2 linked regions of the Homo sapiens genome follow. The protein of the gene in region 2 interacts with the protein of the main gene of each other region in a pairwise test. Each region holds a gene or a part of one and is shown on either strand. Other genes may lie near its edges.

Region 1 (7,568 bases), on a different chromosome or scaffold from region 2:
TATACTATTTCCTTTTTCACTAGAAGGAAATGTTTACAGGAGTGGTGTTAATAACTGGGTCATTAATACAGATAATTAGTATGTCATGTCATTTGTGGCTTTCTTAAATTGACGGTCAGATGGTCTTTTCCAGCTGTAGGTCTTAAAATGCTAAAATCAGCATTCATAATATCTGTTTATTATTAGAGTAGATGCAATGCATTTTGAGCTATTAGAATAAAAAATGAAAGTTATATATAACTTAAAGACATCCTAGAATTCAACTAGGATTTCTATCTCCTAGGAACTAAACATATTTTCTAGGTAAATTATGCCATTATTATGGACCAATGTTGTAATGAAACTAGTGAGATGGTAAATTTGTAAAAATAAATTTCATTCACGGGGGACTGGAAAGCACCATTTCTTTCCTTAGAAAATAATTCCCCAAACTCCTACACTGGATAAATGACTTGCCTTTTTAAGGAAGTCTGGCTTTCTTAGAGGCTAGTGTTACTGTTTTACAGTTCACTTTCGTTTACATCAGGGGTGTCCAATCTTTTGGCTTCCCTGGGCCACATCAGAAGAAGAATTATCTCAAGCCACACATAAAATACACTAACACTAAGATAGGTGATGAGCTAAAAAAAAAAAATGCAAAAAAAAACTCATAATGTTTTAAGAAAGTTTATGAATTTGTGTAAGGCTTCATTCAAAGTGCTCCTGGGTTGCATGCGGCCCACGAGCCATGAGTTGGACAAGCTTGATTTACATGAAAAGATATGCTTTTTATTCATGTTTTTAATCTTGCTGCTGCTTTCTCATTCAATACTTTTTCTAAAAATATCTCAGAACAGGAATAAAAGTCAGATGATCAATTATGGCAAGATTAGTATTTAAAAACGAGTTAAAATTAGGTAGTCTGAAATTGCAGTAGTGGTGGGGTCTACCTGCCAGATGTGCCCACCAAGAGGTTTATGTGACATTGATTTCTCTGTCAGTTTCTCCTCACCCCAAAACTACCTTTCTTGATACTTTTGTGGCCTTCTTCCTTGCCCTTTGACCTGGCAACTGTACTTTCATGCCTTAAAAATTTATAAAACAAAGGAAAAAAAATCCGATTCTCAAATGCAATTATAAGTAACTATGATAATCAGGATGTAAATTTTTTCAGTATACAGGAAAGAGAAACACTTTTAACTTTTAAAGGAGGCCAGCCAGGTGCTAAGTGGCTCACGCCTGTAATCCCAGCACTTTGGGAGGCTGAGGTGGGCGGATTACCTGAGGTCAGGAGTTCGAGACCAGCCTGGCCAACATGGCGAAACCCCATCTCTACTAAAAATACAAAAATTAGCTGGGCGTGGTGGCATGTGCCTGTAATCCCAGCTACTCAGGAGGCTGAGACAGGAGAATTGCTTGAACCCAGGAGGCGGAGGTTGCAGTGAGCCGAGTCCCACCATTGCACTCCAGCCTGGGGAACAAGAGCAAAACTTTGTCTCAGAAAAAAATAAAAATAAATAAATAAAAATAAATAAATAAAGGAGGCCAAAGCATGCTTTACACAAAGGAAGCCCTGTTTGGTAAGGGAGTGAGACCCGTTGGTTTATAGTTAACACTGTCTTATGTTTTTTCGATTGAATTGCTAATGAGTAGTTTTCTTTGGCTCTAAATAACAATGTTACATAAGTAGGTTGAGAGCCTATATTACCTAGTATAAACTCAGTGCTGCTGCAGTTGATAAATGGAGCTATGATACAAAAACAGATGGCTCAAGTGGGATTTCAGATTGATTATCTGAGGGTTGTTACTCACCTGAGTATGTCTCCTCTTTGTCACAGAGCTGGTAACAGAGAGCAAGCTGTTTTTGGCTCAGAGCTCTACAGCAATATTCCTCAAACTGCCTGGTAAAGGATCAGTTTTTGTTTTTAATTTTTATTTCAATCCATACCAATACACTTATAAAAATGAAATAGTAGGAAAATGAAGTGAAAAAAAGACATAGAAAATACAAGCCCAAATGTATTGTTAAATTCAACAGATAAAAAATTACTACTATAATTGTAATAATCATATTGCTCTAAAAATTTCTGAAGGCTTTATCTCAGTTGCCATACTTTTCTTATTGCAGACCAGTTTGAGTTATAATGCCACATTTTTCATGTATTAAAACAGCAAAGCAGGCCAGGCGTGGTGGCTCACGCCTGTAATCCCAGCACTTTGGGAGGCCGAGGCAGGCGAATCATCTGAGGTCGGGAGTTCGAGACCACCCTGACCAACACGGAGAAACCCTGTGTCTACTGAAAATACAAAATTATTTGGGCGTGGTGGCACGTGCCTGTAATCCCAGCTACTTGGGGGGCTGAGGCAGGAGAATCGCTTGAACCTGGGAGGCGGAGGTTGCAGTGAACCAACATTGCGCCATTGCACTCCAGCCTGGGCAGCAAGAGCAAAACTCCCTCTCAAAAAAACAAAAAACAAACAAACAAAAACAGCAAAACTGGATGTAGTGGCACACACTGGTTAGTCCCAGCTACTCCAAATGCTGATGTGGGAGGATCACTTGAGCCCAGGAGTTCAGGGTTGCAGTGAGCTATGAGTGTGCCTGTGAATAGCCACTGGCAACATAAGGAGACCTACTCCCTAAAATAACCAACAGCATAAATCCATAAGTTGGCAGATGAAAGTAGTGCTATTCTTAGGATGATTTTAAAGATGAATATGATTAATAATGCACTGATTTCAAAAGGGACTGTCTGAGACAGTATCATTCAAAGTCAATGTTACTACTTGAACAAGCTATTAAAATCCAAATCTCTTCTGTTAAATGACCTTCTAGGATTGTTGTGAGGTTGAAATAATATAAGCACAGGCTTAACACTATGTCTAGAACATAATAAAAACTTTCAAAAATATTGAGGCAGATTCTCAATACTGATTAGAAAAACTTGTAAAGATTTTCATTTTTATAACTTTGTTCTAATTTATAATTGTTAAACCTTTTATTTGGAAACAGACTTAATAATGGGAAGCTCCTCCCCCTCCTCCCCTTCGCAGTCATGGAAACTTCTCGGCAATTTGTTTGGAATCCAAAGGTCTTGTTGTGGGGTTTGGTTTGCATTACTATTTACCATTCTATTTGGAGAGGCCAGGGCTTTTCCTCTACCCTCCCTGCTTTATACTATTTTTCTTAGTATTTAACTCTCTTTTCTTCATTATACTTACTCTCATTTTAAGCTTTGTTTTGTTCTTTCGTGTTTTAAAGTTTTGTGTCTGTATTAGTCCATTCTTACACTGCTAATAAAGACATTTCTGAGACTGGGTAATTTATAAACGAAAGAGGTTTGATTGACTCACAATTCAGCATAGCTGGGGAGGCCTAAGGAAACTTACAATCATGGCAGAAGAGGAGGCAAACACATCCTTCTTCATGGGGCGGCAGGATGGAGAAGTGCTGAGCAAAAGGGGGAAAGCCCCTTATAAAACCATCAGATCTCGTGAGAACTCACTGTCACAAGAACAGCAAGAACTCACTATCACAAGAACAGCATGACCTCCCACCAGGTCCCTCGCATGGGAACTACAACTCAAGATGAGATTTGGGTGGGGACACAACCAAACCATATCAGTGTCTGATTATAATAACTGACTCATTCATAATAAGTATCTTTAGGGGTTTGAGTTACCCGCAAATCAAAGGTTTATTGTGTCTGAAGAACAGATTTATTCAGTATGCTTCTGCCTCTACAATAGGTTCTCTTTGAAGTAGATTTAACAATGTTACATTTTTAAGGACTTTTATATTGTCTGGTACATTGCTCTTACCCTCTTATGGTAATACAAGAGATTTTATACCTGTTTGGAATTTCATTTGTAAATTCTAAGATTTGAGCCGGGCATGGTGGCTTATACCTGTAATCCCAGTGCTTTAGGAGGCTGAAGCTGGAAGTTTGCTTGAGGCCAGGAGTTTGAGACCAACCTGGGCAACAAGTGAGACCCTGTCTCAGATGAATGAACGTAAATTATAAAATTTTAAACTTTGCAATCTCAGTAAATTTATCCATATCTGGAAAGAAATCATCAGCTTGTCTTTTCTCAGATTGAACTACAGATTATTGTTTCATAAGGATCCTTGATAAAACTAAGTTTGGATCAAATAAAATCCGGTTGCAATATGATTCAATATTATTTTCCTGAAAAACTTTGTTTTCTCCAGGATACTATATTGATAAACATAATTAAGACTTATCTGCATAATAATATTAATAATGTTTATTGAGCTCTTTCTGTATACCAGGCAATGATATGCACTATCTTATTAATCCTCAGGACCAAGACTATGAGATACTGTTAAACCTCACTTTACAAATGAGCAAACTCAGGCTTGAAGAGGTCACAGACTCTGGTAGAGGTGTGATTTGGAACTAAGTCATTTTGATTCCTGTTGCCAAATCAGTCACTTGACTACTAAATGTTGCCTTTCCTAATGAATGCTGTGTAAAGAAGGAATGAAAATAGGATCTACCTAAATTGATGCCTTTAGCTCCCCAAATTAGGAACATCTTTCATACCTTCCACAGTATATCTCATGCTTTCTGCCTAGTCAGTGGAGTAGAACTTGAAACTCCAGAGGTAAACAGTCTCCAAATACCATTGAAACCTATAAGAAATAAGTTAATATGTCTTAGATGCCTTTTAAATTAACACCTGCCAATTTGGAATCTGAAGTAGTTCCTATTGTGAACTATCCAAGATGAATTTCACACTTGACATCCTCACAGGTTAGTCGTAAATTGTGCTGTTCAAGAAGTGACATCCTTTTCAAGAGAAGATGACATGAAATGGATTCAGAATGTTTCTGTATATGATAGTCTTAACCTCTCCTCTAATTAAAGAATTTAATGATGAGACTTTTGTTGAATGATAAGATCCCCTTCAGCTCAGTATGGAATTCCACACTGGGCTGAGCGCAGTGGCTCACGCCTGTAATCCCAGCTACTCGGGAGGCTGAGGCAGGAGAATTGCTTGAACCTTGGAGTCGGAGATTGCAGTGAGCTGAGATTGTACCATGGCACTCCAGCCTGGGCAACAGAGCGAGACTGTCTTAAAAAAAAAAAAAAAAAGTAGTAGTACTAAGTATGAGTACTGGTATTTCTTAAAACCTATAATGAAATTACAGAAATCTCAGTCTTCCTTGAATACTAATATTCAGTTTTTAACTTATTGAAATAAAATGGAAATAAATATTAGTTAGACTGGAAATTCTTTGTTTTTTTTTTTTTTTTTTTTGAGATGGAGTCTTGCTCTGTCGCCCAGGCTGGAGTGCAGTGGCGTGATCTCAGCTCACTGCAACCTCCCCTTCCCAGGTTCAAGCAATTCTCCTGCCTCAGCCCCCCCAGTAGATGGGATTACAGGTGCGTGCCACCATAACCAGCTAATTTTTTGTATTTTTAGTAGAGACAAGGTTTCACCATGTTAGCCAGGATGATCTGGATCTCCTGGCCTTGAGATCTGCCTGCCTCGGCCTCCCAAAGTTCTGGGATTACAGGCATGAGCCACCACACCCAGCCCTGGAAATTCTTACATGGAAATTCATTTTTAAATGAAAAGGTCTTGAGGGTAACTAATAGATAATTACATCAAACTATCTATTGCAAACCCTGTATTTATCTGACGTTAATTTCCTTCCTTCCTTTCTTTCCTTTCCTTCCTTCCCTTCCTTCCCTTCCTTCCTTCCTTCCTTCCTTCCTTTCTTCCTTCCTTTCTTCTTTCCTTCCTTCCAAATTTCACTCTTGTTGCCCAGGCTGGACTGCAATGGCATGATCTTGACTCACCATAACCTCCGCCTCCCAGGTTCAAGTGATTCTCCTGCCTCAGCCTCCCAAGTAGCTGGGATTACAGGCATGCACCACCACGCCCCACTAATTTTGTATTTTTAGTTAGAGACAGGGTTTCTCCATGTTGGTCTCAAACTCCTTACCTCAGGTGGTCTGCCCGCCTAGGCCTCCCAAAGTGCTGGGATTACAGGCGTGAGCCACTGCGCCCGGCCAATTTTCTTTCTTTTTTTTTTTATTTTGAGACAGAATTTTGCTGTTGTTGCCCAGGCTGGAGTGCAATGGCACGATCTCGGCTCACTGCAACCTCCTCCTCTCAGGTTCAAGAGATTTTCCTGCCTCAGCCTCCCAAGTAGCTGGGATTACAGGCGCCTGCCACCATGCCTGGCTAGTTTTGTAGTTTTAGTAGAGACAGGGTTTTTCCGTGTTGGTCAGGCTAGTCTTGAACTCCCGACCTCAGGTGAATCCGGCCTCCCAAAGTGCTGGGATTACAGGCATGAGCCACCGCACCCGGCCCTGCTATTATATTCTTTACGGTTCTCTCTTAGTCAATTCCTCATCATTCTAGTCCCCTTTTATGCTTTTATAGGTATTCCTTTTTTCTTTCTTTCTTATTTTGAGATGGAGTCTTGCTCTGTTGCCCAGGCAGGAGTGCAGTGGTATGATCTTGGCTCACCACAACCTCTCTCTTTGGGTTCAAGTGATTCTCCTGCCTCAGCCTCCCAAGTAGCTGAGATTACGGCTGCCTACCAACACGCCCGGCTAATTTTTGTATTTTTGGTAGAGACAGGGTTTTGCCATGTTGGCCAGGCTGTTCTCAAACTCCTGACCTCAGTTGATCAGCCCGCCTTGGCCTCCGGAAGTGCTGGGATTACAGGTATGAGCCACCATGCCCAGCCCCCTTTTGTAGGTATTCTTTATGTTAAACTTTCTCTCTTCAAATTACTTTATGCTTTCTCTTTGATGAAAGGACCCTGACTGATAGAGGTAGGTAATGGATCATAAAATCAAATAAGGCTGAACAGAGAATTAAGCCTGGAGTAAAATAAGACAGCCCCAGTGTCATGATATATGGCAGCTGACCTTCAGTGTCAGTGCCTGGGAGTCATTAGGGAGAAGTGAGAACTGTGGGCATCTAAAGGGCACATATCATTTGATGACACCAAATCTTCCTATTTTTCCAAAGCTAGAAATCTGGATTTTTATATGAAGTCTCCTGAATTTTATCCTTTGGCTACTTATTCAAATATTGTATCAGTGCGTGGGCCAAACAACCCATGTTTGTGAGTCTACAAGCCTCTAGACTGCCTGATTTCTAAGCCCTCTGAATGTAGAAGGGGTGGGCAAGCAAGTAGAGGAAGTAAGTTACAGCATGGCAGTGGGGATGGGAGAGACAGAAAAACATTTTGAATTATTACACAACGTCAAAGTGCAGTTGTTTAGAATCACTTAGTAGAGGGGAAAACATCTCTATGTTCACATTAAAGACACTATGTTCTCTAATTTGACTATAGTATAATAATTAATGACACATGTCAACTGATATGTCAGGTTCTACGTTGATTTTAACAGTAACCTTGAAAGGGAAGAATTCTTGTCCTGCTTGTAGATAAGGAAACTGGGCCTCAAGTTTAGTAAGTACAAATCCCCTATTTATATAGGCTTTAATTAAATTAACAATTTTTTAAAAGACGCTGTGGAAAATTTGGAAAATACGGTAACGTATAAAAGGAAAATAAAATTATCTATTATCCAACT
Region 2 (7,568 bases):
ATACTAAATTTAAATTTACAGTGTTTTGGTTTATTCTTAAAATGTGGTAAGAGCTTAACTTTAAGGATGTAATAGTCTATCATTATTTTACTTGTGTTTCAGTGAACAACCTACTGTAATTTTTTTCATCATTCATCTTATTAATCAGTGTCATCAGATTGGGAGATCTTTAATAAACTCTAGAAAGAACCATCTTTCCTTCTTTTCCTACTTCTCATTAATGTTTCTAAATTTGCCTTTTTACAGGACTTTGCCTCCCGGGCCAAACTGGCAGTTCAAAAACTAGTACAGAAAGTTGGATTTTTTGGAATTTTGGCCTGTGCTTCAGTAAGTGAATTGTATTAAAACAGAACTTTTACTAAGTGGTAGTGTTATATTTTGATCCATATATACTCCTGAATTAACAAAAGTGCTATCACTTTTATTGGGTATGTAATTTTGTGAATCATTCACCTTTTTTTTTTTTTAAGACGGAGTCTCCCTCTTGTCACCCAGGCTGGAGTGCAGTGGCATGATCTCGGCTCACTGCAACCTCCATCTCCTGGGCTCAAGCAATTCTCCTGTCTCAGCCTCCCTAGTAGCTGGGACTACAGGCATGCACCCCCACGCCTGGCTAATTTTTATATTTTTAGTAGAGGCAGGATCTCATGTTGCCCAGGCTAGTCTCAAACTCCTGGGCCCAAGTGATCCACCTGCCTCGGCCTCCCAAAGTGCTGGGATTACAGGCATGAGCCACTACACCTGGCCCATTCAACTTTTTTTTTTTTTTTTTTTTTTTTTTTTGAGACAAGAGTTTCACTTTTGTGGCCCAGGCTGGAGTGCAATGGCACAATCTCGGCTCACTGCAACCTCCACCTCCCGGGTTCAAACGATTCTCCTGCCTCAGCCTCCCAAAGTAGCTGGGATTTCAGGCGACTGCCACCACACCCAGCTAATTTTTTTTTTTTTTTTTTTTTTTTTTTTTTTTTTTTTTTTGAGACGGAGTCTCGCTCTGTCGCCCAGGCGGTAGTGCAGTGGCGGGATCTCGGCTCACTGCAAGCTCCGCCTCCCGGGTTCACGCCATTCTCCTGCCTCAGCCTCCCAAGTAGCTGGGACTACAGGCGCCCGCCACTACGCCCGGCTAATTTTTTGTATTTTTAGTAGAGACGGGGTTTCACCGTTTTAGCCGGGATGGTCTCGATCTCCTGACCTCGTGATCCGCCCGCCTCGGCCTCCCAAAGTACTGGGATTACAGGTGTGAGCTACTGCACCCAGCCCAATTCAACTTATTAAATGAGCTGTTTTCTGTTGAATAGGTTCACATCTTGTTTATTGGCTTTTAAGTATTTCATCATGTAGTGATGACTTCAGACCTAAATGGCTTAAATCAGTAAGAATAAAAGAGACAAAATCCATTCTTCCAATGAAGAATATACTACATTTAACCAAATTAAACTACATTTAACCAAATAAGGATGACTTCATTCTTTCCTCAAATTTATAGATAAGAAGTCTTTTTCCAAAGTTTCAAGTATTAGTTACAAGGAAGAATTTATATAAAACCTGTTTAAAGCGATGTTAGCTCAGGGCTACTCTGATTTACGTATCTTAAATCCTTTTTTTGTGTTTGTTTTTCTTTTTTTGAGACAGAGTCTCCCTCTGTCACCCAGGCTGGAGTGCAGTGGCGAGATCTTGGCTCACGGCAACCTCCACCTCCCAGGTTCAAGCGATTCTCCTGCCTCAGGCTACCCAGTAGCTGGGATTACAATCATGCACCACTACACCCAGCTAATTTTTGTATTTTTAGTAGAGACAAGGTTTCACCATGTTGGCCAGGCTGGTCTCGAACTCCTGACCTCAAGTGATCTACCCACCTCGGCCTCCCAAAGTGCTGGGATTATAGGCATAAGACACTGCGCCCAGCCTACATATCTTAAATACTTTAAATTCATTTTCATTTCAACATGAGTTGGAACCTTATGATAAAGGAAAAAAAAGTTATAACTCATAGAATTATGAGAGTCACATGAGCAAATATAACAAATAGCAGGTGTGATGCTGTGTAAATGATATTATTATATGGTTGTAAGAGATGAAATAATCCTAAAGCATTTGAATTTGGATGAGAAAAACAAAAATGAGTCATTGAATCCAAGTGTTACTAACAAAGGAATACTTGAATTCTAATTTAGTCATGTCTTTTTTAAAGATCATATGTGACAAGTATTTTTTAAATAACTAGGCTTTTCTTTCAAAGTTCAAAAATGAAATTATATAAATTAATTGGCTTATTAATGGTTCAGCCAACAGCCACAAGGTCAGAGTACTTTCATAGGAGAAGAAGGGATGAAGTGCTCAAAAACAGCTTGTGGCTTCTTTGCATTTTTACATGAAATGTCTTTTAGCATTCTTAAAATGTGGGAATGTTTGGGAAAGGTATTTGTTGTGAATTACTTCTTTGTCTGGGACTGAGTATTCAAAACATCTGAATCTGTGTGATCTCATATTTCCACACTTGATCTTCTTTATAAATTGTGTCACATAGCCCTCAGACTTGGTCTCTCGTAAAATAAAATACAAATTATTAATATTTTATGTTGAGAATAACAGCACATCCACCCATAAATGTATTTGAGAATTTATTAAAATATTTGCTAATGATATGAGTGCTTTCCAGATAATATTCACATTTCAAGCTAAAGATTTTAGAACCCTAACTGCTGAAACAATCTTAAGGCTCTTTCTTCACTCATACCTCACCTTAGAAAACAGCCACCAAATATCCAGGAATCAACTGAACGGGATTAAATTCCTGCAGGTCCACTTACTTTATCCAGTTCTCATGTGATGGGCACACACACAAACACACACACAGTGCCTTAGCCATGAGTAATATAAGCAAAAGGACACCTTGGTTTGCTGTGAGCAGATTGAACACCTAAGGTGAATATGAGACCCAGCTTCTAGACACATTAGGATGTTTGCCTAACCTCCTTTTGAACAATCCAGTAGTGATCAAGGAACCCATATATTGCTTTGCAGTGTAAGCAGGCTGAAAGCAGAATACCACATATCAATGGGTGATAAAATTAAATTGTTCTTTGGATTATAATATGGAAGTCCTTCTTTTTCTCTCTATAGATTCCAAATCCTTTATTTGATCTGGCTGGAATAACGTGTGGACACTTTCTGGTACCTTTTTGGACCTTCTTTGGTGCAACCCTAATTGGAAAAGCAATAATAAAAATGCATATCCAGGTAATTATACCCCCTGATTCACTGCCTAATGATGATGAACCCATTACAAGACAATGAAACATGCTCATTCCTAAGTGAATTATTTAGTTATTCTTTCTGCTTTTTTGGTTGGTAGCTTACTTAGGTAATACCACATAGAATGTCATTTGGAATTAGTGATCTCCTTGTTTTCTTTCTTTTCTTCTTTCTTCCTCCCTCCTTCCCTTTCTTCCTTCTTTCCTTCCTTTCTCTCTTTCTTTCTTTATTTTTTGTCCTGTTTAACTATTTATCCAGGACTTTCACCAAACAAAAATAGTGTTTGTGTGCAGAAAGATGCACATCATTTTTATATACACAGCCCAAAAAATGTAGTTTTTTGTTTGTTTTGTTTTGTTTTACCAACCACAAGCTGAGAGAATATTGCCATTCACTAATTCTTACTTTCTTTCACATACTCTATATATATAGAGTGTGTAAAGCAGTTCCTCCCATGTTACCAATATCCTTTACCGAAAAACAGCCAGATGTTAGTGTGGGAGGAGAATGGGGAAGAAGAGGGTCTCTGAAGAGGCGAGGAGATGTGGGTTGTGGTCAGAGAAGTGAGAATCTGCTAGTCCTCAAAGCCACTCTTAACAAAATCTTTAGGATGGAGGGTGTGTGCATGTGTATGTGTGTGTGCACACATATATGAATAGAGAGGAGAGAAAAGGTTAACAATTTAAACGAAGGGAAAATGGATATGTGCTTCTAGAACTGTGATATGAATTACTTCCTTCTAAGGGCAGATCTCAATAGAATAAAATAAAAATTAACCTGGAAAGAATTTGTTTTATATCAGTATGGTTTGTAACAAAGAACGTTATTAACCAAAAGAAAGGAAAGAACAACCAAGCGTGGTGGCTCACGCCTGTAATCCCAGCACTTTGGGAGGCTGAAGTGGGCAGATCATGAGGTCAGGAGATCGAGACCATCCTGGCCAACATGGTGAAACCCTGTCTCTACTGAAAACGCAAAAATTAGCTGGGCGTGGTGGCGCACGCTTGTAATCCCAGCTACTTGGGAGGCTGACGCAGGAGAGTCTCTTGAACCTGGGAGGTGGAGGTTGCAGTGAGCCAAGATCACGCCACTGCACTCCAGCCTGGCAACAGAGCAAGACTCTGTCTCAAAAAAAGAAAGGAAAGAACAGTGAAGTTCTCTGCCCTTGTATGATTCCATGATAATTACAAGTGTGTCTATCCCCAAAGTTTCTATGTTAATACCTCTCTACTTCCAGTTCTTAGAAGGGAAGAATGAAACAGGAAAACTTCGGCTGCTTCTACTTATCCAGTTTATAATCTTAGATTTTGGCATTTGGGTCAAGTTTATTGCGTCTGTCCTCTATTTTCCTGCCATAATCACTCAGAATTTCATGATGTTTTTCCTACTTCAAAGAATATATTTCCTCCCATTTAAATTAAGTATTTTGTTCAATCAACGAACACAGGTTTTTTAATATTACAGTGCTAGTTACTATGGTTAAGATTTAATACTGGCCAGATGCGGTGGCTCACACCTGTAATCCCAGCACTTTGGGAGGCCGAGGCGGGTGGATCACCTGAGGTCGGAAGTTCCAGACCAGCCTGACCAACATGGAGAAACCCTGTCTCTACTAAAAATACAAAATTAGCCGAGCGTGGTGGCGCATGCCTGTAATCCCAGCTACTCAGGAGCCTGAGGCAGGAGAATCACTTGAACCTGAGAGGTGGAGGTTGCGGTGAGCCGAGATCGTGCCATTGCACTCCAGCCTGGGCAACAAGAGTTTGTCTCAAAAAAAAAAAAAAAGATTTAATACCATACAGGATTTTTTCAAATAATAAAATATGGTGAATAATAAATTATTTTCAATGTATCTGAAAATAGGTTTTTCTTTAATCTTTAGAGTTGTTTCTAGAAGAGAGCTGTCATTTAGCTTCTTGCAGTCCTTAATACCTAAGGAAAAATAACAGATTATTTTATTTCATAACAAGAACTTCTCTAGTAATCCATAAGTTTTATGTGTCCTGCTTTATACCTCTTGAATGCAGTGCCTTTCTATAAATTATAGTAAAACGTATTATGCCATAAGTACCCTATCTGTAGTGGTAAGATATGCAACTTATCAGACCTTTCATTTCAGAAAGATTTAAAACTAGTATATATTTAAACATACTCAGATTTTTTCAATTTATGATGATTGATTGATTGATTGATTTTTGAGATGGAGTCTCTCTCTGTCACCCAGGCTAGAGTGTGGTGGCGTGATTTCAGCTCACTGCAACCTCCGCCTCCCAGGTTCAAACGATTCTTTTGTTTCAGCCTCCAGAGTAAGTGGGACTACAGGCGCATGCCACCACACCCAGCTAATTCTGTATTTTTAGTAGAGATAGGGTTCACCATATTGGCCAGGCTGGTCTCGAACTCCTGACCTCATGATCTGCCCGCCTTGGCCTCCCAAAGTGCTGGGATTACAGGCATGATCCACTGCGCCTGGCCGATGAGTGATTTTTTTATGGAACTTCACACTTTAAAGCACTTATCTATATGATTTAATTCTTATAATCCTGGGATAGAGGAATTACTATACCCATTTTGTAATTCTCAGAGGTAGGGAGGTTAATAAGTAATAGTTGCTTAAGAGAGTAAGTAACAGCTGGAATTTGAACCCAAGTCTTTTGACTTCAAGTTCAGTGTTCTTTCCATTCTTTTGCATTGCCTTCTTAACTTTAATGTATTGATATGATTAAGGAAACTGAATTGTTTAATGCCTGCTATTGATCAGGACCTGTGCAAGGTAATTTGCAGTAGTTATCTCATGGCAGACAATCTTGAGAGGTTGTTATTAACCACATTTCATAGATGAGGGAACTGTGTTAGAGAAGGTAAAATACTTGCCTAAGGCCCTAGAATCCAACCAAGCTCTGTAAAGATAAAGCTCTTTCCCTGTATCTATGTGGAAGCAAAAAAGAAAAAGAAAGCTAAAATCCATTTATGTTTCTGAAAGGAAAGAATCTGAGTTCCTTCACTAAACTAAGACCGTGGGATATGTTTGCTGTGTTCCATCGTATCATAGTGACATGCTTTGTAAAGGCATGTCACTTGATGTACATCCAGATGTAGCTTAGGGTAACAAACATTTCTCATTCTGTGGGTAAACAATATTAGTAATATAAACATTTTAACCATTCTGAAATAATAGTGGGAAAGCCACACACACACCGATTTTTTTCTACCCTAATAGTAAACCTGTCTCCTTGTCTGCTTTTCTTTCTTCCCTTTTTCCTCAGCTTAAAATTAGACAACCTTCTTTAATAAATATTGCTATTTTTATTGATGTCTTCCTCTTAACCTTCCCCTAAAAGATTCAAATCAATCTACCTATAATGTTAGATCAGATTTCCCCTTCCACTGCACAGAGTCAAGTACTCTGTCTGTAGAAGTATCCTTAGATAGGAAAAGGCATGAGAAGAGTATCTTTTTAGAAAAAATTTTTTAAGAAGTAGTATCCTTAGAGACATTACCTTTGTCCCAAATAATTAAGAAAAGCAACATACTCATTCATGTTATTTCATGTACCATTTAACTTACTTATTGTACCCTTAAAATACATCACTGTTCTTTATCTCTCTACCTTCACACTCACCAGCACACACACAGTATTATAAACTCCCAGGAGGGCAGAGATTTTTGTCTGTTGGTTCACTGATGTATTATAATGCCTAGAATAGCATCCAGGAGATAGTAGGCACTCAATATTTAATAACTGAATCTGTCTTAAGATTCTTCTTTCTGGCCGGGTGCGGTGGCTCACGCCTGTAATCCCAGCACTTTGGGAGGCCGAGGCAGGTGGATCACAAGGTCAGGAGATCGAGACCATCCTGGCTAACACGGTGAAACCCCGTCTCTACTAAAAAAAATACAAAAAAATTAGCTGGGCATGGTGGCGGGCGCCTGTAGTCCCAGCTACTCAGGAGGCTGAGGCAGGAGAATGACGTGAACCAGGAGGCGGAGGTTGCAGTGAGCCCAGATTGAGCCACTGCATTCCAGCCTGGGCAACAGAGCGAGACTCCGTCTCAAAAAAAAAAAAAAAAAAAAAGATTCTTCTTTCCAATGAAGGACTTCTTTTACAGATGGTTCCATCTTTGTTCATTCTAGCACAATTAGTTTCTCCCTCCCATGTCTTTTTTCCTCCTCCTCTACCCTTTCCTTTGTTTCTTCTATGCATGTGGTTAAGAGGGCTCTTCCGTGGTCTGTGCCTTTTATTTATTTTGTAGAATTCCCACTCAGACCTCCTGCCTGAAAGACTAAGACATATGTTCTTAAATGTGTGACACATT

What was found.
Region 1: the proteins of VMP1 (region 2) and SLC39A9 interact in binary tests that used the Homo sapiens proteins (3 or more experiments, as listed by UniProt).

What each region holds. Positions count from the first base shown.
Region 1 is NC_000014.9:69,401,604-69,409,171, forward strand, and holds part of SLC39A9 (zinc transporter ZIP9), read left to right. Parts: intron 1-7,568. UniProt on the Homo sapiens protein: Transports zinc ions across cell and organelle membranes into the cytoplasm and regulates intracellular zinc homeostasis. Participates in the zinc ions efflux out of the secretory compartments.
Region 2 is NC_000017.11:59,808,550-59,816,117, forward strand, and holds part of VMP1 (vacuole membrane protein 1), read left to right. Parts: intron 1-246; coding exon 247-327; intron 328-3,120; coding exon 3,121-3,237; intron 3,238-7,568. UniProt on the Homo sapiens protein: Phospholipid scramblase involved in lipid homeostasis and membrane dynamics processes. Has phospholipid scramblase activity toward cholesterol and phosphatidylserine, as well as phosphatidylethanolamine and phosphatidylcholine.